7 separate regions of the Homo sapiens genome follow, and regions 1, 2, 3, 4, 5 and 6 are each linked to region 7. Evidence: fine-mapped expression QTL. A gene starts in region 7. Each other region holds a variant in brackets. All regions are shown on one strand. Distances are between the middles of the regions.

Region 1 (4,066 bases), 21 kb after region 7:
TATTGCCCCCTTCCAATATGGATCAGTACATTGTAATTCCCAGAAACGGGTACTTTTTAACATAACTGTAAACTGGTCATTTCCTAGAAAAAGAGAGAGAGAGAAGGTTTTTGTACTAACTCCACTGTGGCTAATGGAATTTCCACATTCAGGGTAGCACCAGGTCTGGCTTAGAACTAAGTCAACCACCCTACCCACACCCAAGATTCCAGAATGCGCCAAGCATTACCAGAGAACTCTTTTTACAAAGCAACTATCCCTGTAAGCAAGGATCCAGGTCTGCTTAAAAAAATCTTCAATGCTTAGATACAGTTATTTACTCATTGATCACTTATGGAGTTTCCAGGAAAAATAATCAGTATGCTAAGAATGATTTTAGGATTATGTTTCAGTTGGAAAGGAAATTAGCAATAAACTTTATGTTACTGTTAGCCTTCACAAAATCCCGCCCTTTGTCATTGTCACTTTTGATCATTATCCACTTGTCACACCATGAAGAGATGATTGCTCATAAAGAGTTCAGTTGGTGACTTCTGATATGTATACCATACACACATGGTCTGTGTCCTATGGTAGGTTCCCTCTTGCCCAGTGGTAAACTGCTGGCTGCCTGCTTGTCCAGTCATTCCAATAAGGACACCGACTTAGGGAATGGCCAACAGCAAGTTGGAAGGAACCTGGGTCCCTTCATGATCACGTGGAACAGAGCCACCTTCCAACCTAGATGGCTCATTATGGAACCGCTATCAGCAAAGAAAAATCCTCCATCTTCTTTAAGACACTGTATATTGGGCAAAGGGAGGTGGCAGGTGTCTCATAGCTACAATAGCTTAACTTTACTAAGTAACTAACCTAACTAATACACAGTTCATCTTCATTTGTGGACTGGGAATAAAAATACACAATGTGCTTTTAGGAAGAAGAATTATATAATTGCCAAGGGAAGAGATGAATAATTTTTCACTCCATTTCATTTCTCATGATTTACCCTTGTTACAGAGATAGAACCTATACCCCTCACAGCTGATAACTTTACACCCTAAGGGGATAGCAGTGGTGGGGCAGTGGCTACCAGGTTGCAGTCTCGCCGGTAAGGCTTTGAGGCCTATGGCAGATGCTCATCCATTTATCTTTCCCTAACAGTGTGGCTCCCTTCACTAGTTGGGCCTCAAACTTGTTTGAGGAATCATGTGGCTCACCACACAATGGAGGCTCAGGATGGGCAAAGACTGGGCATCTGGTCATTCCCATAGATGTGATACCAGGGGCCAATGTCAAAGGCATTTCCTACCTTAACCACCTGCTTGATGCCATTAATGGTGCTGTTCATGAGGGACTTCAGCATGTTGGCATCATTCAGAGAGTCTGCGTAGCGCACACACATGAACAGGATATGAGCCGGCAGCCCGGGGATCATGTTCACCACCACGCCACGGGGCTTCAAGTCTGAAGCAGAGAGAGCCAATGAGGATTACAGCTGACAGGTCAGCTCTTCTCCTAAGGAACTTGTGACTAGGGGCAGGGGCTTGTTTGCTTTTCTGTGCTTGACACAGTGCCTGAATGTATATGGATTTATTTCCTCTTTGAGGAATTCCATCTGGCTCCTTTCTTGGCACAAGATACACAGGTGTCACTTGTTCCTCTTCTTGTTTACAAAGGACTTTCTCTTTCTTAAAAGGTTGAATAAGAGACAGAATCTTTATTTTTCCCTGGTGTGGAAACCCTGGATTTCAGACCCCCATTGTAAGAAAGAAACTCCATTCCATGCACCCCTACTCCAAGCGCTTTGATGAGGATGGCGTACAGTGTCCACAGTCACATGAAGCTGCCTTGAATAGGGAAAGCAGGCACACCCAGTGCAGCAGAGGATGCCTGGCTGGCCTTGAGGAGAACAGAATGGTGGAAACGCTCAGTGGGGATGAAGGGGAGAGAGAAATCTTACAAAAAAAGTTAAGATAAGCAAACAAGGATGTCCCCTGGCTGCAGGAAGACAGAAGAACAAAGAAGAGGCTCACACTGCATGACACCAGTGATGAGGGGAAAGAAAAGGGTAGAGGTGCTCATATGAGCCAAGGGGGTCACTCGCAGAAGAGGAAGGAAGGCTACAC[G/A]TTGGCTTTCTGTTTTGAGATCTTGGGGCCAGCTGACAGGGAGGCAGATTTTTCTCCCTATGCCAGAAAACCACGTGGAAGGTCACAGTGAAGACAGTGCAGTAAGATTGGTTCTATGACCACCAACTCTTGAGCATGCACATGGGACATTCCTGTAACTGAGGCATGGCTGGGAAGCCCCATCACATTGCCCGCAGAGAAATTTCTCAGAAGTCAAATGGAGCACAGAGCCACAATTGCTTCCATGATGGCTCCTGTGCTGAGACACAAAAATGAGGTGATGTTTCTCTTCTACCCTGGTCCTACAATTTGGAAAAGGTCAGGGCAGTGGTTCTCAACTGAGGACAGTTTTGGCCCCCACAGGACATTCGGCAATACCTGGAGATATCTTTTATTGTCATCACTAGGGGTTGCTGCTGCCTTCTAGTGAGTAGAAGTCAAGGATGCTGCTCCATCCTTTGTTACTCCCCATTCACAGAGTTAACAGGTCAACAGTGCTGAGGTTGAGAAACTCTGGGCTGGGGGAAGAAGCAGTGGAAGAAAAAGTAGAAAAAGGACCACCCCTGCCCAGGACTTTGGCACTGACTGATATGCAAGTTCTCAAAGAGAAAGCAAAAATCCAGAGTTCCAGGTTTCACTACCAAGAATGAGGTTCTGAATGAGCTTGGCCTCGTCTTCTCTCTTGTATTGCAGCATTCCAAGGTACTCCTTGGGTCCTGAGGACGAGTGCACATCATTGGCTGTAGACAGAGGCAAACAATCAGCTAAATACACAAAAGCAGCTTTCACAGGTCTCACAATGTGACTACTCTCCTACCCCATTCTGGCTGGTTTGCACGTAAATGTCTGTGGCTTTCAGATACATTAAAACTGTACTGTATTGTATCCTGAAGAATTTCTCCAAGTAGTGATTCCTCTTTATGAGTACATCAGTGAGTACAGCTGCTGCTGAAAAGGCCCAATTATCCTTTGAAGAGCCTTATGAGTGCCTGATATGTATCCAGCACATGGTAACAGGAAAGAAATCCAAGATGTTGCCTTGTCTTCAAGATGCCAATGCTACTGTGAAAGAAGACTTGTGAAACATTTGGTGTGCAAAATACCAATGTGCATGATCCTTACTGAGACAGCTGTATTAGTTTCCTGTGGCTGCTGTAAAGTTATCACAAACATAGAGGCTTAAAACAACACAAATGTTTAATCATACAGCTCTGGAGGTCAGAAGTCTGAAAGGTGAGCCAGGGTGGTGAATGATGGTTCATTCATTCATCCCAGCAGTGGGGATGCAGCGGGGGCTGGGAAGCACAGACCTGGGCCCTGCTCTCATGGGGCAGACTGCCATTTGTCATTTATTACTGAAGGAAAGGGATCCTCAGTTTGCTTGTGGACATTTCAAATTTGAGGTGAGAGTTGGATAAGTAAGAATAAAGCTGCTCTTCAAAGAGATGAATATAGAAAAAGAAACAAGATACAGCCTTGGCAGTAAGGCTGGGAGGAAGGGGAAAAGGTAATAAAGAATGAAAGAGTGAGAAATGTGAGCAGGAGCTGAACACAGAAAAGTTCAGTGACAGAAGCAGAAGGAGGGAAGAAGGGAGGAGGGTCCCTTTCACAGAGGCTCACGAGGATGCTTTATGTGTGCCATGCAGTCCATGTTCAGGATGTCTGCTTCTTAGCTCTCTACTTTTCTAATAGAAATTTGGATACTTACTGATCCTACATATGTAACAGGGAGAGAAGGTGAATTTCAAAGCAGTAAATTGAAAAATTGTTCACAATTTCATTTTTTAAAAAAGGGAGCTAACAGAGGAAGAGGTTAATGTGTTAATTATAGGATGTCTCTTGCGAGTACATGAATGTATCTGGTATCATCTGAGTGGGAGGGAGCTGTCTTCCTGACCCAAAGGATCCTTTCGTTAGCCCAGCACTAGGTCACAAACCTCACCACTTGAGAATCATTC
Region 2 (4,066 bases), 72 kb before region 7:
TTCTGCAAAGACATCTGCCTAGCAACTGCCTGTCCAACCTCGGACTGGTGTGACCTTTGTTATTGATATTTGTAGCCAAGGATAATTATTTCAAAACCATTATGTAATCCTCCTCATTTTTTCCTTTAAAAACCTTTGTTTTTCTTTTTTTTTTTCTTTGTTTTTTTGAGTCAGAGTCTCGCTCTGTCGCCCAGGCTGGAGTGCAGTGGTGCCATCTCGGCTCACTGCAAGCTCTACCTCCTGGGTTCATGCCATTCTCCTGCCCCAGCCTCCCGAGCAGCTGGGACTACAGGCACCTGCCACCACGCCCAGCTAATATATATATATATTTTTTTTTAGTACAGACAGGGTTTCACCGTGTTAGCCAGGATGGTCTCGATCTCCTGACCTCGTGATCCACCCGCCTCGGCCTCCCAAAGTGCTGGGATTACAGGCGTGAGCCACCGCGCCCAGTCACCTTTGTTTTTCTTTACCTCCTGGAATATGCACACAGTTTACTACAGCACACATATTCCTGTTGCAATGCCCTACTTTTGATTAAATATCTTTAGCGAGCCTGTCTTTGTTATTTAGGTTGACAGGAACATTCAAAATTCTCTCTTCTAGCTACTTGAAAATACACAGTAAATTATTGTTAGCGATAGTCACCCTACAGTGCCGCCAAACACTAGACTCCTATCTTGCTGCAAATTTGATTCCATTAACCAACTCCTCCCCACCCCCTGCTGCATCCTTTTTCTAATGACATGAACATATTCAGTCATTTCATTTCTTTCACTGGGGTTGGCCCTGTGGCAGCCCACGGGAGGCCAGAGTCCCCTGTGGAGACTGACCAACCCTGAAGGCCAGCCTGGCTCCAGCCAAGTGCTGTCTAGAAGCAGGAGTCTGTGGTATGTCTGGAAGAGTGACCCAATTCTCTCCGGTCACGGATGAGAGGGCAAGTGGTTTAGCATGGCAATCCTTACAAAGGATCCACAGAGACAAGATTCACTCGCGGCCTCCCCAGTGGGCCTCCGGCTCAGATTTCCTGGCCCACCTCAGGCCCGCCCAGTCCAGATCTCAGGGCAGGGCCCTGAAGGCGCAGTGCAGGAACCTGCCATGGGTGGGACGATTCTTCTCAGCAGGCAAGTTTGGGAAATGAAGATCTACAAATCCCCACTCAATCAGCTCTTCCAGGCTTGGGAATGGCCTGGGCCTCAGCCCCAGTCTTCTACCCCACCCACTGTGCCTTCCCCAGGCTTCCAGGCGTCCTCTTTTGAAAGGATTTTCAGGTCACAGGCCTCAGCTGGTCCCTAGCCCTTCCGACTGCCTCTCTGGGACTTCCTCCACCGACCGGGGCTGTCCCAAAGCCTCCTCTGAAGGCTTTCCCTAGGGTGGCTCTCCTCAATCATCCTGTCACCTCTTTCTTTGCCAAGCTCTTCCAAGGCCCTTAGTGGTTTCTGGGAGGTCTCACACAGAGGGGCTGGAAAAGGGCTCATTAGCCCAGATCAGCTGTTCTCAAAGCAAGATCCAGGGCCCCCGAGGGTCCCTGAGACCCTTTCAGGGGGTCCTCACGGTCAAAACTATTTTCATAATAATATTGACACTTTTTTTTTTTGTATGGGTGATTTTTTTATTTTCATCCTCTCAGGAATTTTCCAGAGACTACTGGCATGGGAGAAAGATCACCTTGATGGCTAATGGAACGTGTGCATCTGTATTCTTGTGTTTTATAACTTTTTCTCAGTCTTAATTTCTAATACAATAAATATGGATAGATACAATCCACAATGAGCAAGTTATTTGGGGTCCTCAATAACTTTTAAGGGTGTAGGCTGGGCACGGTGGCTTACACCTGTAATCCCAGCACTTTGGGAGGCCAAGGTGGGAGGATCACCTGAGGTTGGGAGTTCGAGACCAGTGTGACCAACATGGAGAAACCTGGTCTCTACTAAAAATACAAAATTAGCCGGGCGTGGTGGTGCATGCCTTGTAATCCCAGCTACTCGGGAGGCTGAGGCAGGAGAATCGCTTGAACCCAGGAGGCGGAGGTTGAAGTGAGCCCGAGATCGCGCCACTGCACTCCAGCCTGGGCAACAAGAGCAAAACTCCACGTAAAAAAAAAAAAAAAAAAAAAGTGTACAGAGATCCTAAGACCAAAAAGTTTGAGAACCACTAGCCCAGACGAAGCTCTAACTGATGAGAATTACTAATTTGCTATATGAGTGGGGGCTGCCTATGGATGGGGAGGAGATGGGGAGAAAAGAAAGAGCTGGGGGAAGGGGAATGGGGAGGAGATGGGGAGAAAAGGAAG[T/A]GCTGGGGGAAGGGGAATGGGAAGGGAGGAGGAGGGAGGGAGAAACAGCAGAAGGGGAAGGAAGGAGACCAGGAGAGAGGTGGAACAGGGAGACAGAGGAAGAGGAGATGAGGAATGGGGGAAGATTGAGAAGGGTTAGAAAAAGGAGTCCGGATGAATGAGGAGAGGGGGAGGGGGCAGAGAAGAGGAAAGAGGAGATAGGAAGGAGAGAGGAGGCGATGGGAGGGAGGGAGGAGGTGATGAGAGGGAGGGAGGAGGGGTGACAGGAGGAAGGGAGGAGGAGATGGGAGGGAGGAGGAGATGGGAGGGAGGAGGAGATGGGAGGGAGGAGGAGATGGGAGGGAGGAGATGGGAGGGAGGAGGAGGAGATGGGAGGGAGGGAGGAGGAGATGGGAGGGAGGGAGGGGGAAATGGGAGAGAGGGAGGAGAGAGGGAGGAGGAGGGGAAGGGAAGAGAAAGAGGGAAGATAGGTGGAGGGAGAAGGGAGGGGGGCAAATAGGAAGGGGACTGAGGAGGACACAGGGAGAAGCTGGGAACTAACCCTTCCTGAAGATGTGCTAAAGGCTGAGGTAGGCACTTTACATATTTTAGTCCCATCCCATGTTACAAATGGGGAAACTGAGGCTGAGAAAAACTCAGATATTATCATATATTCTGTGACCGTGACAGAGGTGGGTGTGAATGAAGGCCAGCCCTCTTATGTCACCAAGGCATCCCTCTAACTCACAGAGGAGTCCCAGTATCGGTGGTGCCACCTTTCAGCCAGCTGGCCTGGCAACTATGAGAGCCCGGGACACAAAGGCCCTTACAACCCTGTGCTGTTTTAAGCCACTTATAACCTAGAGAAGGGTGCAAAGGAGGTAGAAGAGCGGGAAGAGGGCAGTGGCAACGGGATGCCCACCTCTGGCTCGCCTGGGAGAAGAGGGACGGCTGCCAGGGCCCCACCGGTGAGAGGCTGACCGCGCATTCTAAAGCACTGGACTTGGCTTCATGTCACAGATATTTCCCATAAATACCCATCACCCACACCTTTCTGCCTGAACTTTCTTTTTTCTGGCCCAGGAGGGGGCTGCCCAAGGCTCTACACCCCTGGGGGCCCATCTGTTTGGCCCCTTCACCACAATTGGTTTGGTAGGTTTATCCCCAAGTCCTCTGGAAAAAAGAAAAGCTGATTATAAAATGCACTCAGCATTATTTTCAATCTGCAAAATACAATCTATCCCATGGAGCTTACCCCTGAGTCTCCACATGCTGTCACATAGTCCAAATCAAGTATCTCATCAGCAAATCCCGACAGCACCCACTGCGAGAGCGCATGCTCACAGCGAAGGAGGCTTCCTGCCCATGCGGGGAGTGGAAGCATTCTCTGGAATACTTTCCCTGGGCCCTTAAAGTGGCTTTTTGGATTGGAAAGTCACAGTCTACTTTGCACATATCCTGAAGATGCTCTCCACCTCTCCAAACATGGAACCTGGAATGTGCTTCCCTGGGCCACCTTTCCTTCCTTTCTCGTGCCTTCCTGCACTTCTGGGAGCCGGAAGGCACAGTGCAGAGACAAAAAAAAAAATGGCTGTGGGAGAGAGGGTTGGGGATGCCACCACAAGGAGGCCAGCTGCACCAGGGGCCACTGTGGGACATTCTGGAGCAGAGCTCAGGAATCCCATGGTGCCCTGACCCCTTCAGCACCTGGCAGGAGCTGGCCAGACACTGGGCCCATTTCCTGAGCCCCTGCCCAGACTGGAATCTACTGGGACTAAAAAGCACTCTCTCTGG
Region 3 (4,066 bases), 160 kb before region 7:
ACATTCTTCTCCCAGTAACAAGAATCTTCTTTCAGAAATGTAAATGAAATAATGTAGATTGCCTGCTTAAAATGGTTTCATAGTTTTTCTTTGGTCTTAGTTATGAGATTCAGAATCCTGCCTCATGTGTTCCTTCCTTCCTCATTGCTACCTCCTTTCCTTTGCCCTTTGCTGTGGATGCTGTGGCTACACTGGCATTTCTTTTGCTCCAAAATGCCAAGTTTTATCCTGCCTTAGGTTTGTTCAATTTGTTGTTTCCTCTGTTAGGAATGCCCTTCTCCCATCTCTTAGCAGTGCTGGTAGCTTCTTATTCAGGTTTCAGCTCCTCAGAGGGCCATTTCCCAGCTACTAGGCCAAATCTGAATTTGTTAATTAGCTAACATGTTTGTTGGTCTTTCCTTACTAGAATGCGAGCTCTTCGGAAGCAGAAGAACCTTGTCTGTCTTATTCTCTACTATATTGTCAAACAGTGCCTGGCACATGCTAAGTGCTCAGTAAATTTTTGTGGACTGTATAAAATGTTTGATTCCTTTAAATCTCAGAAGGGAAAAACTGCATAATAATTGCATTGTACCCAGTGTAACGTGATTCTGGACTGGGTCCTTTACCTCCCAAGTACATGATTGAGATAATTGCAGAAACTTAAATGGGGCCTGATTATCAGATGGTAGTACTATACCAGCGTTAATTTCTTGATTTTGATGGTTGTGTTTTAGTTATGCAGAAGAAGGCTTTTTTTTTTTTTTTTTTTTTTTTTTTTTTGAGGCAGAGTCTCACTCTGTTGCCCAGGATGAAGGAGTACAGCGGTGCAATCTTGGCTCAGTGCAACCTGCGCTTCCCAGGTTCAAGGGATTCTCCTGCCTCAGCCTCCCGAGTAGCTGGGACTACAGGCGTGTGCCACCATGCCCAGCTAATTTTTTTTTTTTTTTTGAGACAGGCTCTCAGTCTGTTACCCAGGCTGGAATGCAGTGGCGTGATCTCGGCTGACTGCAGTCTCTGCCTCCTGGGTTCAAGCAATTCTCGTGCCTCAGCCTCCTGAGTGGCTGGGATTACAGGCATGTGCCACCATGCCTGGCTCATTTTTTTGTATTTTTAGTAGAGACAGGGTTTCACCATGTTGGTCAGTTTGGTCTTAAACTCTTGACCTCAAAGGATCCACCCGCCTTGGCCTCCCAAAGTGCTGGGATTACAGGTGTGAGCCACCATGCCTGGCCTTAATTTTTGTATTTTTAGTAGAGAGACAGGGTTTCCCCCTGTTGGCCAGGCTGGTCTCAAACTCCTCACTTGAAGTGATCCGCCCACCTTGTCCTCCCAATGTGCCGGGACTACAGGTGTGAGCCACTGCCCCCAGCCAGAAGAAGGTCTTTGTCTATAGGAAATATACTCTACTCAAAAGGTTGGGGAGTGAAGGGAGATATGTACTATACTTGTCAATAAAAAAATAAGTTACAGTGAGAGATAATGGAATTTGGTTTACAAACCTGGTTCAAATCCTGGCTCTCTCATTCATGTGTGATCTTGAATGTGTTTTTTAAGTTCTCTAAAATAAAGATTATATTTTGCCTATTTTGCCTATTGGGAGGATTTAGTGTAAGGGTATATGTCCAACACAATGCTTCACACATAATACAGTCTCAATAAAACCTTGCTTATATTCTTGTAAAATGTTGACCAGGCGTGGTGGCTCACACCTGTAATCCCAGCACT[TTGGG/T]TGGCCAAGGTGGGAGGATCGCTGGAGCCCAGGAGTTCAAGACTAGCATAGGCAACATTGGGAAACCTTGTCTCTACCAAGATAATAAAAAATTGAGCCGGGTGTGGCACCTTGCACGGTGGTCATAGCTACTCAGAAGGCTGAGATGGTCCACCCACCTTGAGCAATGGAGGTGGAGGTTGCAATGAGTCATGTTCATGCCACTGCACTTCAGCTTGGGCAAGCGAGATCCTGTCTCAAGATAAATAAAATAAAAATTTCACCATTTTATTTTCATGTTCAGTGCTGTGACTTTCTTTATAATATGAACAAATAATTTTTTTTTTTTGAGGCGGAGTCTCGCTCTGTTGCCCAGGTTGGAGTACAGTGACACGATCTCGGCTCACTGCAAGCCCTGCCTCCCGGGTTCATGCCATTCTTCTGCAGCGCCCACCACCACGTCTGGCTAATTTTTTTTGTATTTTTAGTAGAGATAGGGTTTCACCATGTTAGCCAGGATGGTCTCGATCTCCTGACCTCATGATCCGCCTGCCTCGGCCTCCCAAAGTGCTGGGATTACAGGCGTGAGCCACCGTGCCCAGCCCAACAATTTTTAATTTTTTTTTTTTTTTTTTTTTTTGAGACAGAGTCTTGCTCTGTTGCCAGGCTGGAGTGCAGTGGTGCAATCTCGGCTCACTGCAACCTCCGACTCCCTGGTTTAAGCGATTCTCCTGCCTCAGCCTCCCGAATAGCTGGGATTACAGTCATGTGCCACCATGCTCAGCTAATTTTGTATTTTTCATAGAGATGGGGTTTCTCCATTTTGGCCAGGCTGGTCTTGAACTCCCAGCCTCAGGTGATCCATCTGCCTTGGCCTCCCAAAGTGCTGGGATTACAGGCGTGAGCCACTGTGCCTGGCCGTGGATAGATATTTTTAATAGACTTTTTATATTTTCGAGATATTTACCCTTTCTGAGTTTTTTATTCCTCTCTGTAGATCTGGGGTTAGTTACATTTGGTGTATTTTTCTTTCATCCTAAAAGACTTCTTTTAGCATTTCTTGAAGTGAAAGTCTGCTGGAGACAGATTTCTATCCAGTTTTTTTAAATACTTTTTTTCTTTTTTTGTTTTTGACACGGACTTTCGCTCTTGTTGCCCAGGCTGGAGTGCAGTGGCACAATCTCGGCTCACTGCAACCTCCGCCTCCCAAGTTCAAGTGATTCTCCTGCCTCAACCTCCCTAGCAGCTGGGATTACAGGCATGCGCCACCACACCCAGCTAATTCTGTATTTTTAGTAGAGATAGGGGTTTCTCCATGTTGGTCAGGCTGGTCTCAAACTCCTGACTTCAGGTGATCTGCCCGCTTCAGCCTCCCAAAGTGCTGGGGTTACAGGCGTGAGCCACCGCGCCCGGCCTCCTTTTTTTTAATGGAGACAGGGTCTCACTATGTTGGTCAGGCTGGTCTTGAACTCAAGTGATTATCCCACCTCACTTCCTGAGAAGTAACTGGGATTACAGGCATAAGCCACGGCACCTGGCATCTTTCTACTTTTGTCTTTTCTTTGAAAAGGTCTTTTGAAGGTTATTTCTCTTAGATACAGAATTCTGGTGTGATGGTTAGTATTAAGTGTCAACTTGATTGGATTGAAGGATGCCTAGGTAGCTGGTAAAGTATTGTTTTTGGGTGTGTCTGTCAGGGTGTTGCCAGAGGAGACTGACCTTTGAGTCAGTGGACTGGGAGAGGAAAACCCACCCTCATCAGTGTGGGTGGGCACCATCCAATTGGCTGCCACCGAGGCTAGAACAAAGCAGGTGGAAGAAGATGGGATAAGCTGGCTTGCTAAGTCTTTTGGCTTTCATTTTTCATCCGTCCTGGATGCTTCCTTCTGTTCCTCCTGCCCTTGAACATCAGACTCCAGATTGTTTGGGCTTTGGACTCTTGACTTAGACCAGTGGTCTGTCGGGGGTTCTCCAGCCTTCAGCCACAGATTGAAGGCTGCACTGTTAGCCTCCCTGCTTTTGAGACTTTTGGACTCAGATTGAGCCACTACTGGCTTATTTCTTCCCCAGCTTGCAGACGGCTTGACGTGGGACTTCTTCGCCTTGTTATTGTGTGAGCCAGTTCTCCCTAATAAGCTCCCTTTCATATATACATAAAACTTATTATTTCTGTCCCTGTGGAGAAGTGTGACTAATACATCTGGGTTAATAGGCTTTGTTTTTTATTTTATTTTTTCCTTATTTTCTTTTTGGGTTGATAGTTTTTTTTTTCTTTTGGTACTTAAAACATATTCTATTGTCTTCTGTTTTTCATTGTTTCTAGTGATAAATCAGCTATCATTCTTATTATTCTTCTCCAGTATATACTTTATCTCT
Region 4 (4,066 bases), 52 kb after region 7:
CTTTTTCATCAGAAGTGACCGAATTAAGATTGTGAAATCTCTGAGACCAAACTTTTGTCCTATCTCAACCCCTTTCCCATCCACTCACAGGATGGATCAGGCACCCCTTATGTTGAAGTGAACACTTATTGCTCTCCTCCCTCCTTGAAAGAAAGAAAATTATTTTTTTGCCGTATGAAACTCATCTCATCACCCTTTTCTGAGTCTAAAGCTGCTGCCTCTAAAAGAGCCATCTCATTGTGCTTTGTATTAGTCAGTGCTGGAGAAATCTTGAATAGCTTATGTAGAAAACTTGTTCAATTTTATATTACTTTGAATTCGTTTCTTTGGAGTTGGACACCCTGGACATCCCATCTGGCTGTGAGAGCTCTCTACAGTCTGTGGGGTGGCAGTGGGCTAATCTTTTTTTTTTTTTTTTTTTTTTTTTTTGAGACGGAGTCTCACTCTGTCACCCAGGCTGGAGTGCAGTGGTGCAATCTTGGCTCACTGCAAGCTCCGCCTCCCGGGTTCATGCCATTCTCCTGCCTCAGCCTCCCGAGCAGCTGGGACTACAGGTGCCCGTCACCACACCCGGCTAATTTTTTGTATTTTTAGTAGAGACAGGGTTTCACTGTGTTAGCCAGGATGGTCTCGATCTCCTGACCTCATGATCCACTCACCTCGGCCTCCCACAGTGCTGGGATTACAGGTGTGAGCCACCGTGCCCAGCCAGTGTGCTGATCTTTTAAAATTTCTTTCCCCAACCCAGTCTCTGCTTTAGGTGAGGTCTGTTAGGTGTATATCCTGTCTGTTAGGTGCACATTATTGGCTTAAAATGTACTTTCCTTTGGTGTGGTCTCTTTGGGGCCAACTGGGAGAAAGAGAAACCAACAGTGCAACTGGTGTGTGTGTGTGTGTGTGTGTGAGAGAGAGAGACAGGGTCTCCCTCTGTCACCCACGCAGGCTGGAGTGTACTGGCATGATCATAGCTCACTGCAGCCTCGAACTCCTGGGCTCAAGGAACCCTCCCATTTCAGCTCCCTGAGTAGTTGGGACTACAGGCATGAGCCACAGCACCTGGAAGAATCTCCTTTCTGGCTTGGCTGACACTTTGTACAAAGTGAGGTTGCCCATAGTGAAGTCTTTCCCTGGGCCCTGTTTTGTTCTCAGTAAGGAAGGCCCGTACACCCTCCCTTCCTCTAGACAGAGGTTGGCCTCACCTTTCGATACCTCCTCCTTGCCAGGAATCCTCGGCTGTAGGCCTGCATTGTGATGGTGGCCATGCGAATCAACTGATACAGGCTGCGAACAAGATACCCGCGGCAGTGCTTCTGAATGATTATGGCTGCCCAAGCTTCTTTTAAGGCCACTGCAGTAATAGCTTTCCTTGGTTAACAAGGATGAAGAGTGAGTCTGTTACCCACAGAGCATCAACTTCCATAACAGAGCTGCAAGCTTGGCTAGCATGTGTTTATAAGGAAGGTTCAAATATTTTACACCTCTCCACATTAAACTCTGTGGGCAGTTTATTCTAATGCCTACTTGAGGCCAGTCCCCAGTTCCCTGTCCTTGAGGAACCACATGGGAACTTTCACTCTTTTCATTCAGGCCAGTCGATTCACCTCCACTCAGGTACCCACAGAGACGATGATGAGACTGTGCACTGGTGCTGCACTTGCTCAATCACGTACTATTTACATATCCCCCACGGCTGCTTTCATGACACAGCAGCAGGAGAGACTGCAAGCCCCCAATGCCTTAAATAGTTATCATCTCGTCCTTTACAGAAAAAGTTTGCTGCCCCTGTCTAAATGACTAGAGGTGAAGATAATGTCCTTACCTTTAGAGTTTACAACCTCATGTACAGAAAGACTAACAAATGGCCAAGAAAGAGGAAAAATAAAATACCACCTAACTAGATCTGTAAGTGAGAGGGGAAAAAAACAGTTATTCTGCTTGGGGAAAGTGGGTATGTGAGCCAGCCCCCAATGCAGTAGGATGTCTGTACACAGTGAAGGCTGGAAAAGGCTTTCAGGATAAGGGACCAGCATGAGTAAAGGCATGGAGGCTCTACAGTGCCTGAAATACTCAGAAAAGGAGTTTGTTTGGAATCACTAGAATAAGATGGATGAAGAAAATTAGACGTCAATGAGGTTAGAAAAATAGATGTGCACCATTTGTTATTTTAAAAACATATTTGTTGAACACCTTCTATGACAGCCACCATGCTAGGTCTGGGTATGAATGACCAGACAAGTGTGGCCCCTGCCCTCATGGAGCTTCCATTCTTATGAATGCACCCAGGCTATGGAGGGCTTTGAATATCACGTCAGAGACTGAATGCTATTCTGTAGGAAACACGGGCCTTAAAGGCAGGTGCAGGGCAGTGTCTCAATCAGGCTCTGATGTAGGAAGATGGGAAGGAGGTGGGAGGTGGAGCACGGTGCCATCAGAGTGCAAGGCAGGTGATGCCGTGAGCCTAAACTGGGGGCAGGAGTGGGATGAAATGAATGGGATAGGCAGGAGGCCAGCAGGGCAGGATGATCAGGCTCTGGTGAGCCCCAAATGGGAA[G/A]GGAGCGTGGCCTTGGCGGGTAAGATAACTGTGATTTCCTTCCCCAAAGACTGCTGTTATCAACTGGGCACAGAAGCACAGGAGGGCAAGCCAGCCCAGCTGTGTGATCCATGCCACACCACGCTGGTCATGCAGAGAAGGCCAGATGCTGCCACAGTTCAGCCTCCAGCTCAGGAAGAAGTCAGGCTTGCAGACGCAGCCTGACCCTAAACGCCGGCCTTCTCAAGCATCCTCACAGCATCCCAAAGAAGGGGCAGAGCAGGCAGAGAGAAACACAAAGTTTATCTAGGGGCACCCTGGTCTTGTGCTTTCCAGCAGGTACACCAAAGCCCTGGAAGTCCCGGAATGACCGTGGTCCTTCAGTGGGCTGGCAGGGTTGTGTGGACTCTCAGGACCCCTCGAGGCAGGTAGGATCAGCGCAGCTGGTGGACCACCCTCCCCTCAGCCCTTGGCTTGGCTGGGGCTGCTGTGGTCTTCCTGCTTAGGGGTTCTGTGATTGGTTTGCTGCCAGGCCTTGCAGGGACCCCCTCTGCCATGGTGCACCCCACCTGTTGCTGGCAGGCTGGTCGCTGGCTATTCTTGACATCTGTCCTTTGGATCTTCACTAGGGCCTTGCTGATCTTATGCATTTTCAGTTCCCATAGGAAAGGGGCCCCGGGCCTCTCCCTGAGCTTCCGGAACCCTGACTCTCCTTAGTAACACTCTCACCAGCGCTTCCTCCCTGCAGGGCCCTGGGTGTCGGCTCACCACACAGACACCAGGCAGAGCCAGCACTACCTGCCCCTGAGAGACGGACCTTTCTTGCCCTAATGCTCACGACCACAAAGGGGACCCATGCACGTCTGCACCCTGGGTCACAGGAGAAAGGTCCCTTGTCCTTGATGAGTCCTCCCCGCCGGAGATGATCAGCACAGAAAGCCCCACAGTTCCACATGTGTTCCTTGATTCCAACATACCTCACAGTTTGCTGACCCCGGAAGTACTGCTGGATTATCAGGGCGGCTCGTCTCTCTCGGAGGAATTTTTTCCTCTGGAGCCAGCCACGCATGTGCTTTTGTACCATAACACAACTCTGCCTCAGTTTATCCAATCGAAGTTTCTCTAAATAAGCCACTTGTCCTGCTCTGAAGAAAATTTTGGTTTTACCAAACTGGTACTGATTAGAATCCTGGAAGAGAAAAATGATATAGTTAGAATTAAAATCTGTCAGATTTTCTATAATACAGTATTTGGAAAAGAGCTTTAGGGATTCAAAGGTGCCAGAAATATTGTGATTTTGACATTTAAGGCAGAAAACTCACATCATGATCTAGAAATGTATACTTTGAGTTGTTTGTTTAAAATTACCCTGGAGGAAGAAATGGGACTTAGGCTGAGGAATCCATTTGTGGGTGAGAAGGGGAGTGAGTGTCATTTGCGGCGATTCTCAGTTGGGCTGCCAGAGAACTTCAGCCACTCTCTCGTGGTCTCCACATTGGAGTAGAAGAAACTGGGGAAGTTTGGTTTTCTGTCTCC
Region 5 (4,066 bases), 94 kb before region 7:
CATGGGGACTGTAGTGCTTTGGCTCTGGGTTCTTACTGACTACCGTCACCCACATTTTCAATTCCTTTGAGTTTCAAATATTACAAAAGGCATGGTTTAGAAACGTGACACTGTTAGCTACCTGAGCAGAACTTGGAACAGCAGCTGGATGGCAAACAGTGCCAGATGGAGGCCTTAGGGTGAGAAGCAGCTGAGTGATGAGGGTTAGAAGCAGCACCATTTGGCTGTGTAAGAGGCAGAGGGAGGATGGAGCGCAGCTGACCTCTGACCTAGTCTAGGATGGCTGCCCTGCCCTTCAGCTGTGGTGTTGGCAAGAGAGGGTGGGTGGCCGTGTGGTGTCAGGAAAGCCAAGTGGCCAGAAGTCACCCGTCCTCTCTATTTTAAAGGCACAGGTGTTTCTTCTCCAGGTCTTGCCTGGTGAGTCCTTTCCCTTTCTCCTTGAGAATCCTGAGGTTTCAACATGGGAGGAGGTGAAACCCTCCTACATTGCAGGTGGGAACATTTAATAACGTGGCCACACTTCACTGCCTGACTGCCGCCATCATGGGTCGCATGCATGCTCCTGGGAAGGGCCCGTCCCGGTTGGCTTTGCCCTATCGCCACAGCATCCCCACTTGGCTGAAGTTGACATCTGATGACGTGAAGGAGCAGATTTACTAAGTGGCCAAGAAGGGCCTGACTCCTTCACAAATTGGTGTGATCCTGAGAGACTGACATAGTGTTGCACAAGTACGTTTTGTGACAGGCAATAAAATCTTAAGAAATCTTAAGTCTAAGGGACTTGCTCCTGATCTCCCTGAAGATCTCTACCATTTAATTAAGAAAGCAGTTGCTGTTCAAAAGCATCTTGAGAGGAACAGAAAGGATAAGAATGCTAAATTCCATCTGATTCTGATAGAGAGCTGGATTCACCACTTGGCTCGATATTACAAGACCAAGCGAGTCCTCCCTCCCAATTGGAAATATGAATCATCTACAGCCTCTGCCCTGGTAGCATAAATTTGTCTATGTACTCAAGCAATAAAATGATTGCTTAACAACAACAAAAAAACCCAATAACGTAGCCACTGTGAAAAACAGGTTAGTAGTTTCTCAAAACATTAAACAGAGTTACCATGTGACTCAGCAATTCCACTGCTAGATGGAATTAAAAACATGTCCACACAAAAGCCTAAAGTTCATATCAGCATTATTCATAATAGCCAAAAAGTGCAACAACCCAAATGTTCATCAACTGATGAATGGATAAACAAAGTTTGGTATGTTCAAATAGCGGAGTATTACTCAGCCATAAAAAAAGAATCAAGTACAGACATATGCCACAATGTGGACAAACCATAAAAACACTATGTTAAATGAAAAAAGTCAGACACAAAAAGCCATGTGTTGTCTGATTCTATTGATATGCAATGTCCAGAATAGGCAAATCCATAGAGATAAAAAGTAGGTTAATGGTTGCCAGAAGGTGAGGGAAGGGAGAAATTGGGAGTGACTCCTAATGGGTATGAGGTTTCTTTATGAGATGACAGAAGTGTCTGGAATTAAAGATGATGGTTGGATAACATTGTTAATATATTAGAAATCATTGAGTTGTATAATTTAAAATGGTTTTATGTTATATAAATTTTATCTAAATTTTTAAATTGCAAAAACCATGGAAGAAAAAACCACCTTAAAAGATACTTTATTTATTTTTACTTTTTGAGACAGAGTCTCGCTCTATCACCCAGGATGGAGTGCAGTGGCATGATCTCGGCTCACTGCAACCTCTACCTCCCAGATCCAAGCAATTCTCCTGCCTCAGCTTTCTGAGTAGCTGGGATTACAGGTACGTGCCACCACGCCCAGCTAATTTTTGTGTTTTTAGTAGAGGTGGGGTTTCACCATGTTGGCCGGGCTGCCCTCAAACTCCTGACCTCAGGTGATCCACCCGCCTCAGCCCCGCCAAAGTGCTGGGATTGCAAGGGTGAGCCACCACGCCTGGCCAAAATATACTTTAATAAAAAGTTGTTATAAAAGTAATGCCCAGGCTGGGTGTGGTGGCTCACGCCTGTAATCCCAGCCCTTTGGGAGGCCGAAGTGGGTAGATCACCTGAGATCAGGAGTTTGAGACCAGCCTAGCCAACATAGTGAAACCCCATCTCTACCAAAAATACAAAAATTAGCTGGGTATGGTGGCACGCAGGAGAATCACTTGAACCCGGGAGGTGAGGGTTGCGGTGAGCTGAGATCGTGCCTCTGCACTCCAGCCTGGGTGACAGAGCAGGACTGTCTCAAAAAAAAAAAAAAGAAAAGAAAAGAAAAAAAGAAGAAGAAAAATAATGCCCAGCAAATTTATTTCAGCAATACTTTTGATTTCCAAGAACTGTAATGACAGAAATTAAAAAAAAAAATGGCTGGAGATTCTTCCAAATCTGAGATATCCATGTTTCCTTTAGAGTTTTATTCTAGTTTCTTCTTTGATTATGCATCCTTGAGAGTATTCTTT[G/C]TGCTGAGTCTGTTACTTCTCCCATGCAATTAGTTTTCTTTCAATATCTGGTGATCCTTGGGGTCAGTTAATAGCTAGAGCTAAGATGTGTGGGGTGGAAGATTGGCCCAGCCAACTGCTGGGGACTGCTGCTTCCCATCTTGGCATTGTTCCATCATTTTGTAAGAGAAAACTTTCACTTTTTTGAGAGGTGCTTTTTATTGCCTGAAGTGGGCTAGAGATCCCTCTAGCTGGGTTCTATTGTCAGTTTACTCCCATTGACATTAAATCTGGAAATTCCACATTGCTGATGGGACCCCCCCCCACCTCCAGTGTGTTAATGCTACTATTGATTATTGAGCTGTAATAGATCTTTTCAATAGAATTTGAAAACAGGGAGGACAAGATATAATCCAACTGAAAAAAATGAGCACTACTTATGCTTTAAACTAAAGCTTTAAAACACATATTCAATTATTTGCAAATACATTAAAAAAAAGAATAGTTGATTTCCTATTATCAAATTTGATACAAGTAATTTTCTGATAAAAATGATAATAAAGATAAAACACTAAGTTTTATCTCATTAAATGTAATCTTGCTAACAAAATAAAAATGTTAAGGTCAAATGAATACAGATGTATAAAAGTAAAATGCAGCTCAGATGTTAATACCACTGGCCACTAAAAGGAACCAGGACTCCTTGGAGAAAGGGTTTCCTCTTTCACTTATTTATATTAGTTAAAAAAACAAAACCATGAGCCAATGCTATCAGTGGGTTCTAATCCTTTCCTATTATCTATTTGATGCTCACATTGTCCCAAATTTGGCCAGTGGAGGCCTCTTACAGAAAAGTGGGTAAAGATAAAACACAACCATGAAATTCAAATTTCATTCAACTAAGTAGCTTTACAACTGGTTACAAGAACACCACCTTTAAACATATCATCCTCCATGTTTAGAAATCTAAATAAAATATCCAATAAATAATACATAAGGAATAAAAGGACAACTCATTTTTTTAAACTGCTAATAACCATGCTGCCTAATACATTATTAGATGTACTTAATGATACTTGAGTGAGGAAGAACCATTTTTTTTTTAGGGAATTTGGGTGTATTTGTTACAGCACAAATATAGAAATGGCCAACACTTGTTTCCTAAAGTGTCTTAAAATAAAATCCAGTCTCTTCCCATTTTGAAATACTAATGACAGCTGGTAGTTTTCATATGAGTGCATTTCAACTTTACAACCACTGTGAGGAAGCTAAAGTCCAGATAATTTAAACCTTCAAGACCAAAGACCCAAGTAAGTGGTTGCGCAACTACCGAACACTATCAGATCTCTTTGTACATTTTCCCCAGAGGAATCAGATAACTTTATGATTTTGATTTAAAAAGAAATGTAACTTTCAACCATATTGAAATGAAGGGGTCTTACCTCTCAAAGTACAAAAATCTGAGCATTTTTAAAGACCAAAAGTCTTGTGTGCAAGGTGTCTAAAGACGCAGATACCCTCCTCTTCCAAAGTCAACTATTAAAGCCTGAGTCATTCTTCTATCGGTAACAGTTAATTCCAAAATGAGCTTTGAAGACA
Region 6 (4,066 bases), 80 kb before region 7:
ATGTTTCTAGTAGCCCCCAAAGGAGAAACACCCTGAAATACACAGCGGTGAAAAGGTAATTAAATTAGCATATCCTGTGATAAGAATGCACTGCAACAGTCCAAACAGTAAGGCAGAGCTGCATGTTCTGGAGAGAAAGACCTCATAAGATTAAGCCAAAAGAGCAGGTCCAGTTAAGTTTTATAAAATGCAAGTATAATAATGAGTGGGAAGGCCTGCAGGGAATCATGCTGTCAACCACCTTGCAGGTGGGTGACAGTTTGCAGAATGGAAGGGGGAGAGGAAGGAGGGACTTTGAGCTTGTGCATTAAGTGTTGGGGAAAAAAAAAGTCAAGCACCGTTACATGTATATTTAAGGAGACAATAAAAACAAATTGTCATCAATTCTACTTACTCCTAAGAATGAACGCTTATTGAATTAGGAAAGACAACTAAGTTTTTTTTAAAGGTACAAATTTATTAAAACTTTGCAGTTAACAATTATTGAAGAAATTAGTATGTTAACTATAAAAACCTAGAAGTCCCAGGAATTAGATTTCAAAGGATTTGGTTTCAAAGAATTCCTTATAAGTGATTTTAACATTACATTCTTTGTTAAACTGGGACTTTTTCTACTTTGGGGATTATTTTGCCCCAGCTGTGGCCATGTTTAAAATTAGTCAGCAGCACATGAAGTTGTGGAGAGATGAGAGGTTCGCACTCTTATCCAAGTTTTAGCAAATAGCACTGTATTTCCCATTTAATGGAATGCAGTTTCTTCTGCGGTTCTTTGGCATAAAGAGGCTCTAGACTCCCCATTTCTTTCACTCAAGGAAGAGCCATTTGCATTCTTGTCCTCACACCTGAGTACTTGTCACAAGTTAAAACACTGGCCAAATCACCACCTCAGGACTCCTTGTATGCATTCAGATAAAAACGTCTGGGGTGGGGGAAGGTGCTTTCCCTCAGTTCTTGTTCTCACACATCTGTCATTTAGTTGGTCACAGTTGGGCAGGTAGAAGCGGGTTAAAAGTTTTAAAACTCATAATAATCGTGTCCAGAGATAAATGAAGGCTGTTGTTAACAAGCATGACAGAAAAGCCTGGACCAGCTGTTTTCTCCAAAAAGCCAGTGGAAAGGGGGTCCTGAAGAAGTGACAAAAGCCATCCTACAGGGGGGAGAGAGAAAAGTTAGATTGCCTCATGATGCTGAGAACCTCACTCAAAACACGCAGGAACTTCCAGATTAAACAGCAAAGTAAAGTTTGGATTTAAAAAGTAAAAGGAAAGGAAATTCTGACCAATACACATCCAGTAATGAGGAGCCCCTGAGGAGTGAGGATTGGTAAGTCTAACAGAGTGAACAGAAGCAAGCATTTAACTTTGTCACTTGGTGCAGGAACACTCATATCTTGACTCAAAACCAAGAGGAAGGTAGCTTATTATGCTCTTTTCTGAGCAAAGAAGAGATGCCTTTTGGGAAACTGTCAAGTCACTAGATTGAAAAGTTATCACCTGACACTACAGCAAGCACCAACCCCATTTAGGAAGGGAATTGAACTCCAGGCTGTGGCATTTTAACTGCAATGGGCAGAGACAAGGGTGAACTATGTTTACCCAATTTGAGAATTTCAGCTTTTTTTTTTGAGACAGAGTTTCGCTCTTGGTGCCCAGGCTGGAGTGCAATGGCAAGATCTCAACTCACTGCAATCTCCACCTCCTGGGTTCAAGCGATTCTCCTGGCTCAGCCTCCCTAGTAGCTGGGATTACATGCACCTGCCACCGTGCTTGGCTAATTTTGTATTTTTAGTAGAGAGGGGGTTTCACCATGTTGGTCAGGCTAGTCTTGAACTCCTGGCCTCAGGTGATCCACCTGCCTTGGCCTCCCAAAGTGCTGGGATTACAGGTGCGAGCCACTGCACCCAGCCAAGAATTTCAGCTCCTTGGTGTTAAGAGATTATTCTTTCATCAACAGTGATTAGCCAAAAACAACAAAAAAAGGCTTCAACGGCCCCTTTCCAATTCTAATCTCTTCTTCAGGTACAGAGAGCCCGGAGGGGCCAGATGCCGTATTGAGACAGGGCTCAGGTGAGGCTCTTAGGCACGCAGCTGAAGGGAGTTCACCGGCCCAGAGGGTTGAAGACCAACACTAACATTATGAACAAGGCAGGAGTTCCTGCTAACACACCTCCCACTCCCTTTCCCTTCTCAGATAGAACCCAACTTGTCACTATAGAAAGTCTAAATGGGGGCCAGGTGAGGTGGCTCACGTCTGTAATCCCAGAACTTTGGGAGGCTGAGGTAGACAGATCACGAGATCAAGAGATCGAGATCTTGGCCAACATGGTGAAAGCCCATCTCTACTGAAAAC[ACACACAC/A]ACACACACACACACACACACACACACACACACACAGTTAGCCAGGCTTGGTGGGGCGCGCCTGTAGTCCCAGCTACTCCGGAGGCTGAGACAGGAGAATCCTTGAACCCGGGAGGCAGAGGTTGCAGTGAGCTGGGATCCACCACCGCACTCCAGCCTGGCCACAGAGCGAGACTCCGCCTCAAAGAAAAAAAGAAAAAGGTCTAAATGGAAACTGCCCCCAGGAGGCTACATTTCGGATCAAAAAACTTGCTGGTTTTAATAGTTTGGCTATAGGTATCCGATAACATGGGCCACTTCAGTCATTGAATCAACGCCAATAAGGTGGTGGGGAAAGAAATGGGGTCTAGCTCAGAGCCCCCAGAGGCATGCAGTGGGCTCATCACCAGGTGGCTTTCCTTGATCATCAGCTGCAGGGCAAGGGCCTGTCCCTCTAACCTTGACCACAGAGATGAAGGCTTGCAGCTGAAAGCCAGGGGCCTAGAACGTTCTCACCGAGGACTGGGTGCAGAGGACTAGAAATTAAGGAACCTTGGGTCAGCGCCACCACTGGGCGACCACCACACTCCACAACCTCTCTGGCCAGGCTGAGAGGCGTAGGGGGTTGTGATCAATGGGTCTGAGTCTCTCCAAAGGCGCATTTAATAGGCGAAGGAGAAAAACACCCCACCTGGCTGGGGCCCCGCCATTGCTGACTTCATTGGTTGGGGATTTCTATAGGAGCAAAACGTTCAGACCTAACGTGGGTGCCCCCCTAAAAGTCCCCGACGGCTAAGGCCAGGGCAAGGTCCAAGTGAGCAGACCTAAGCCTGCGCAGCTGCTTCGGAACGGTTCACGGCCGTCTAAGAAGGCCGATTTCTGCCGGCCTTTCTGCCAGGGGAGGAGAAACCCCAGACTTCACAGCGAACGTTCCAGGCCCGCTGAAACGAGCCTTTCTGCTTTCACGAAACCTCGTTCCAGGGGCCTGGCGCGGTGGGTTCCTCACCGTGCCAGCCTCGTGGGCGCTTCCCGGCTGCCCGTCCCGCCCCGTGTCCCGGTGTCCGCCGCGTGCTCACCCAGCCGCCCTGAGCCTGCAGCCAGGCGCGGTGCTGCCCCATGAGCCGCGAGCTCAGCAAGGCCACCAGGCGCTGGCAGTCCCGGGCGACGTCGCCCTCCTGCTCCTTTAGCCGCGGCTGGAAGCCCCACTTCTTCCACCGGGCGGTCACCAGCGGCCCTCTCTCCAGCAGCGTCCCTGCGAAGGTCACGAGCGTCACCACTCTGCCCCAGGTGGGGCCGGGGCTGTCGGAGAGCACGGAATCCGCCATCAGCGCCACCAGCTCGAAGCGGTTCCCGGGGTAGCCGAGGTAGGCGGAGAAAAAGGACCGGTGAATCTGCCGTAACCTGGCGGCCGCGGAGCGCAGCACGGCGGCCTCGGGCGTGGATGGCGCCGGCTCGGGGGTGCCGGGTTCCCGGGCGCAGTACCCCAGGTAGTCGGCCAGCAACAGCTCGGTGCGCTCCCGCAGCGGGTCGGCCATGGTGGTGCGCTCCCGCAACTGGTCAACCATGGTCCGGCCTCTGCTGGGGGGCCGGGCCTTCGCTGGTTTTCTTGGCCCGGCCGCGCCTCCCCCAGGGTAGGGCTGCCGTGCCCCGCCCCGGCCCCCGGCCCCCGGCCCCCGGTATATTGTTTTTCAGGACTGAGAGAAGAGCCTTTGATGGGAATCCCACCTGCAC
Region 7 (4,066 bases):
CGGTTTGGCAGTTATTCAAAACTTAAATATACAGCTGTTACCATAAGACCCCGCAATCCTACTTCTAGATATATACCCAGGATACTTGAAAATGTATGTTCACTGGCTGGGCGTGGTGGCTCATGCCTGTAATCCCAGTACTTTGGAAGGCCCAGGCGGGTAGATCACCTGAGGTCAGCCTGGGCAACATGGTGAAACCCCATATCTACTATACAAAAATTAGCCAGGCGTGGTGGCAGGTGCCTGTAATCCCAGCTACTTGGGAGGCTGAGACATGAGAACTGCTTGAACTTGGGGGATGGAGGTTGCAGTGAGCCAAGATCGCGCCACTGAAATCCAGCCTGGGCAATGCAGTGAGACTCCGTCTCAGAACAAAAAAAAAGAAAATATATGTTCACATAAAAATGTACATACTAATTTTCATGGCAGCATTATTAGCCAAAAGTGAAAGCAACCCAAGTGTCCACCAACCGACAAATGAAAAACAAAATGTCTATCCCTCCAGTAGACTGCTATTCAGCAATAAAAAAGAATGACGTTCTGACACATGCTACAACATGGTCAAACCTTAAAAACGCTATCCTATGACAGAAGCCAGACACAAAAGGCCACATATTGTATGATTTATTTATATGAAGTGTACAGGATCAGCAAATCCATAGAGACATGAAGCAGATGAGTAGTTGCGAGGTGGAGGGAAGAGAGAATAAGGGGGAAGGAGGGAGCTGAGAGTGAGTGGCTGCTTAAGGGGTATGGGATTTCTTTTTCGGGGTGATGAAAATACTCTGGAGTCAGTGGCAATGGTTGCAAATCCTTGTAAATAAACTTAAAAAACACTGAAATATATGTTTTAAAATGATGGGTTTTAAAACATGAAACAAAACGTGGACATCATATCTCAATAAATTTTTTTTTTTTTTTTTTTAGACAGAGTCTTGCTCTGTCGCCCAGGTTGGAGTGCAGTGGCGCAATCTCGGCTCACTGTAAGCTCCGCCTCCCAGGTTCATGCCATTCTCCTGCCTCAGCCTCCCAAATATCTGGGAATACAGGCGCCCGCCACCTCACCCGGCTAATTTCTTGTATTTTTAGTAGAGATGGGGTTTCACCGTGTTAACCAGGATGCTCTCAATCTCCTGACCTCATGATCTGCCCGCCTCAGCCTCCCAAAGTGCTGGGATTACAGGCATGAGCCACCGCGCCCAGCCCAAAGATTATTTTTAAAATGGACAAAAGGCTTGTGTAGTCACTTCACAAATGAGGATACTTATATGGTCAATAAACATATAAAAAGGTGCTCATTATCATTAGTCATCATAGAAATACAAAGTAAAACTACGATGTGATACAACTACTTAGCCATCAGAAAACCTAAAAAGCCTGACAACACAAAGTGTGGGCAAGGATGCAGAGACTGGAACTGCCTTTCTCTGCTAGTGGGAGTATAAGTCGGTATAACCACTGTAGAAAACTGGTTGGTAGGAGCTACTAAAGTGAAACGGATATAGTCTATGACCAGGCAATTCTACTCGTGCATACATACACCACAGAAAATAATGCTTATTTCCTTAAAAAAAAAAAAAAAAAAAAAAAAAAAAAAAAAAAAAAAACATAAATGTCATAGCAGCTATTCATAGAAGGCCTAAACTTGAAAGACCCAAATGTTCACCAGTCACAGACGAAACTGTGAAATGAGCATAGAATAAAAAATAACTGATACACACAATGTGGATGTATCTCAGACTTACAACTAAAAACCTCTTTCTAACCCCATAAGCTGTACTCAGAGGCTTATGTTGCCATGTGTCACCTGGATCAAATTTTAAAACTGACTTAGTGATTTTAAGTATGCTTAATCTCTTTCCTGATGCCAATATTAATGTAAAAAATATTGAAATATTTCAATTTGAAATATTTGAAATTTACTATTTCAAAATAAATTCATGTGTATTGTAGAAAAATTAGATTCTACGGATTAACAACAACAAAACCCCTCACCCATGCTCCCACCGCACAGAAAGACCTGCTAACACTGTGCCCTGTACTCATCTGGATGCTTTTCTGAGCATTTCAAAAGCTGGAGTATTTTAACCGAATGTCAGCATGCACATACCTTCCAGAGTCAGCACTGGGAGCCACAGAGCAGATGGTGAGAGGTGAGGACCAGCGCGCAGCTTGAGGTGTGAAGCACGTCTCCCACTGGCTAATCTCCTTATCTTCTCTGGAGTGCTGCTCAGCTTGCTTCCTTCCTCCACAGCACTTCCATGCTCCCTGCTGGGCACGCACTGCCATCTGCATCCCTCACTCACCCCTGGAACCTGCCCAGCCCCTCTGTGGAGGGAGGCCTTGGCAGGTTTGACCTCTGTGTCTGCGCCCACTCACTGAGCAGCCCTCACATTCACCTGGGCCACATGTTCTTAACATTTCTCTATTTTGGTCTCCTTGCCACTGTCAGCTTTGTAGAACTGATCAAGACTGTGGGATGAGTGCCTCCCTTTCCCCATTTTTCCACACATAAACTCCTCAGCCTCCACAGGTCTCCCTGTCCCCAAACATGACCTACTTTTTCCCATGGTTGACTCCCCACCACACACACACAGTCCTCCAACGGGACTTTGCTCCTTCAGTTCTCTTCCCACCTCATCAGCAGTAGGATGAAGGCAGGGATGAGGAGGATGTGGCACCTGCCCTCTGGGGCTCACAGGCCTACAGAGGAAATGGGCAGCATTTCTGGCTTCCAGTCCAGGGTAAGTGCTATAAAACAGGCATAAATCCTGAGTTATGGAAGCCGAAAACCAACAGTGATGGCTCCTCATGGTGTGGGGAAGGTCTAGAAAGGGCATGGAGGCCGCAGCTCAGGATCAGAAACCCTGCCAATTCTCTGCCAAGTAGCCCCTCATTCTGACAGTGTGGAAGCGCCCTGGAGACACAGCCTAAGCCAGCACTTATGACATATTTACTTCTTCTCTAAACATTTTAATATACTTTAAATGAGATATTATGAATCTATAAAGATTCTAGCATCTTTCAGTATGACCGTAAAGAAAGGCATACAACTTGTACACTTAAGAGACATGTCATCTCCTCGCAATGAAAGAATCTGACCCAATTCATTTGGTAATTAATTTTATTGATTAAAGTATTACAAAGTTCTACTTTTCATTTTTTCATGTACAATGTATTGAAATGAACTAAACTCAATCACTTATAATATAAAAAGACATTATTATGTATTAGCAGGGTGATGCTTCATAATCATGTATTATTCCTACCTCTAAGACACCAGTCTGTATTATAGAATCACAGCTGTCACCTGTGACTGTCAGAAACAGAAGGTGCAATTGGGATTCTTAGGTTGGTGACAGAATAGCACTGGATCCACAGGCCAGAGACTAGGAGTGCTTATCAAATGAGGTTTTAGGCTCTGAAAGGAAGGAATGAGAAGGTGTGCCGGGACAAGGAATAGCCAGTTCCCATAAAACTTGGGAAACGTAGATTTCTCAAAAGTAGGGTCCGACACAATTTTTTAGTTACTTTTTGAGAAAATTTAAAAATAAATACATTGAAATGCTGATTAGAGAGCGAAAGTAATTTAGGTTGCTTTTTCAATCTGAGGTTGTTTTAAAAAAGTTATTGTATGAAAGGTATTAAAAAATAAAAAAATTATGGTGAATATGTTGGCAGGTAAGATTTGAAGTTCTTTCAGAGAAGATAAACGGCATGGCAATTAAGCTTTAATAATATATTAGTTTTAAATAGATATACATATAAAAATACTTCAAATGATTCATCTCGGATTGAACACTCTTAAAAATTAAAAGGGTCAGCCGGGCGCGGTGGCACACGCCTGTAATCCTAGCACTTTGGGAGGCTGAGGTGGGCGGATCACGAGGTCAAGAGATCGAGGCCATCCTGGCCAACATGGTGAAACCTGTCTCCACTAAAAATACAAAAATTAGCTGGGCGTGGTGGCAGGTGCCTGTAGTCCCAGCTACTCAGGAGGCTGAGGCAGGAGAATTGTTTGAACCCAGGAAGCGGAGGTTGCAATAAGCCGAGATCATGCCACTAC

Direction of the effects. Positions count from the first base shown, and alleles are read on the strand shown. Sizes are in standard deviations (SD) of each study's normalised expression. Not every link is listed here.
For the expression in NK cells of the gene that starts at base 2,181 in region 7, allele A in region 2 goes with a lower level than allele T (large effect, 0.82 SD a copy in Gilchrist 2021).

Evidence for each region. PIP is the estimated chance that this variant, and not a neighbour inherited with it, causes the effect.
Region 1: its variant is the best candidate, but not a certain one, in a credible set for the expression of GNB5 in whole blood (TOPMed, PIP 0.71).
Region 2: its variant is the best candidate, but not a certain one, in a credible set for the expression of GNB5 in NK cells (Gilchrist 2021, PIP 0.85).
Region 3: its variant is the best candidate, but not a certain one, in a credible set for the expression of GNB5 in stomach (GTEx, PIP 0.76).
Region 4: its variant is the best candidate, but not a certain one, in a credible set for the expression of GNB5 in whole blood (INTERVAL, PIP 0.73).
Region 5: its variant is the best candidate, but not a certain one, in a credible set for the expression of GNB5 in prefrontal cortex (ROSMAP, PIP 0.62).
Region 6: its variant is the best candidate, but not a certain one, in a credible set for the expression of GNB5 in lymphoblastoid cells (TwinsUK, PIP 0.64).

Annotation. Positions count from the first base shown.
Region 1 is chr15:52,210,439-52,214,504 of GRCh38, forward strand. It overlaps MYO5C (myosin VC), which reads right to left. Exons shown (of 41, transcript NM_018728.4): 34 at 2,750-2,848; 35 at 1,292-1,446. Among named protein-coding and RNA genes, the nearest start is that of GNB5, 21 kb to the left of the region's middle. The variant G/A (reference allele first, on the strand shown) is at 2,109.
Region 2 is chr15:52,116,775-52,120,840 of GRCh38, forward strand. GNB5 (G protein subunit beta 5) reads right to left here. Exons shown (of 13, transcript NM_016194.4): 13 at 1-4,066. Among named protein-coding and RNA genes, the nearest start is that of BCL2L10, 6.0 kb to the left of the region's middle. The variant T/A (reference allele first, on the strand shown) is at 2,294.
Region 3 is chr15:52,029,880-52,033,945 of GRCh38, forward strand. The region is part of intron 1 of MAPK6 (mitogen-activated protein kinase 6); the gene reads left to right. Among named protein-coding and RNA genes, the nearest start is that of MAPK6, 13 kb to the left of the region's middle. The variant TTGGG/T (reference allele first, on the strand shown) is at 1,708.
Region 4 is chr15:52,240,849-52,244,914 of GRCh38, forward strand. MYO5C (myosin VC) reads right to left here. Exons shown (of 41, transcript NM_018728.4): 19 at 3,508-3,719; 20 at 1,200-1,365. Among named protein-coding and RNA genes, the nearest start is that of MIR1266, 34 kb to the right of the region's middle. The variant G/A (reference allele first, on the strand shown) is at 2,552.
Region 5 is chr15:52,094,752-52,098,817 of GRCh38, forward strand. All of the region lies in intron 1 of LOC112268150 (a long non-coding RNA gene), which reads right to left. It also overlaps the pseudogene RPS13P8. Among named protein-coding and RNA genes, the nearest start is that of BCL2L10, 16 kb to the right of the region's middle. RefSeq lists a silencer at 9-209. The variant G/C (reference allele first, on the strand shown) is at 2,489.
Region 6 is chr15:52,108,827-52,112,892 of GRCh38, forward strand. BCL2L10 (BCL2 like 10) reads right to left here and starts at 3,949. Exons shown (of 2, transcript NM_020396.4): 1 at 3,412-3,949; 2 at 437-1,147. The coding sequence starts at 3,900. The coding sequence ends at 1,022. RefSeq lists enhancers at 618-667, 1,558-1,627 and a silencer at 3,796-3,955. The variant ACACACAC/A (reference allele first, on the strand shown) is at 2,350.
Region 7 is chr15:52,189,212-52,193,277 of GRCh38, forward strand. GNB5 (G protein subunit beta 5) reads right to left here and starts at 2,181. Exons shown (of 13, transcript NM_016194.4): 1 at 2,111-2,181. MYO5C (myosin VC) reads right to left here. Exons shown (of 41, transcript NM_018728.4): 41 at 3,111-4,066. All of the region lies in intron 2 of CERNA1 (competing endogenous lncRNA 1 for miR-4707-5p and miR-4767), which reads left to right. RefSeq lists an enhancer at 2,279-2,778.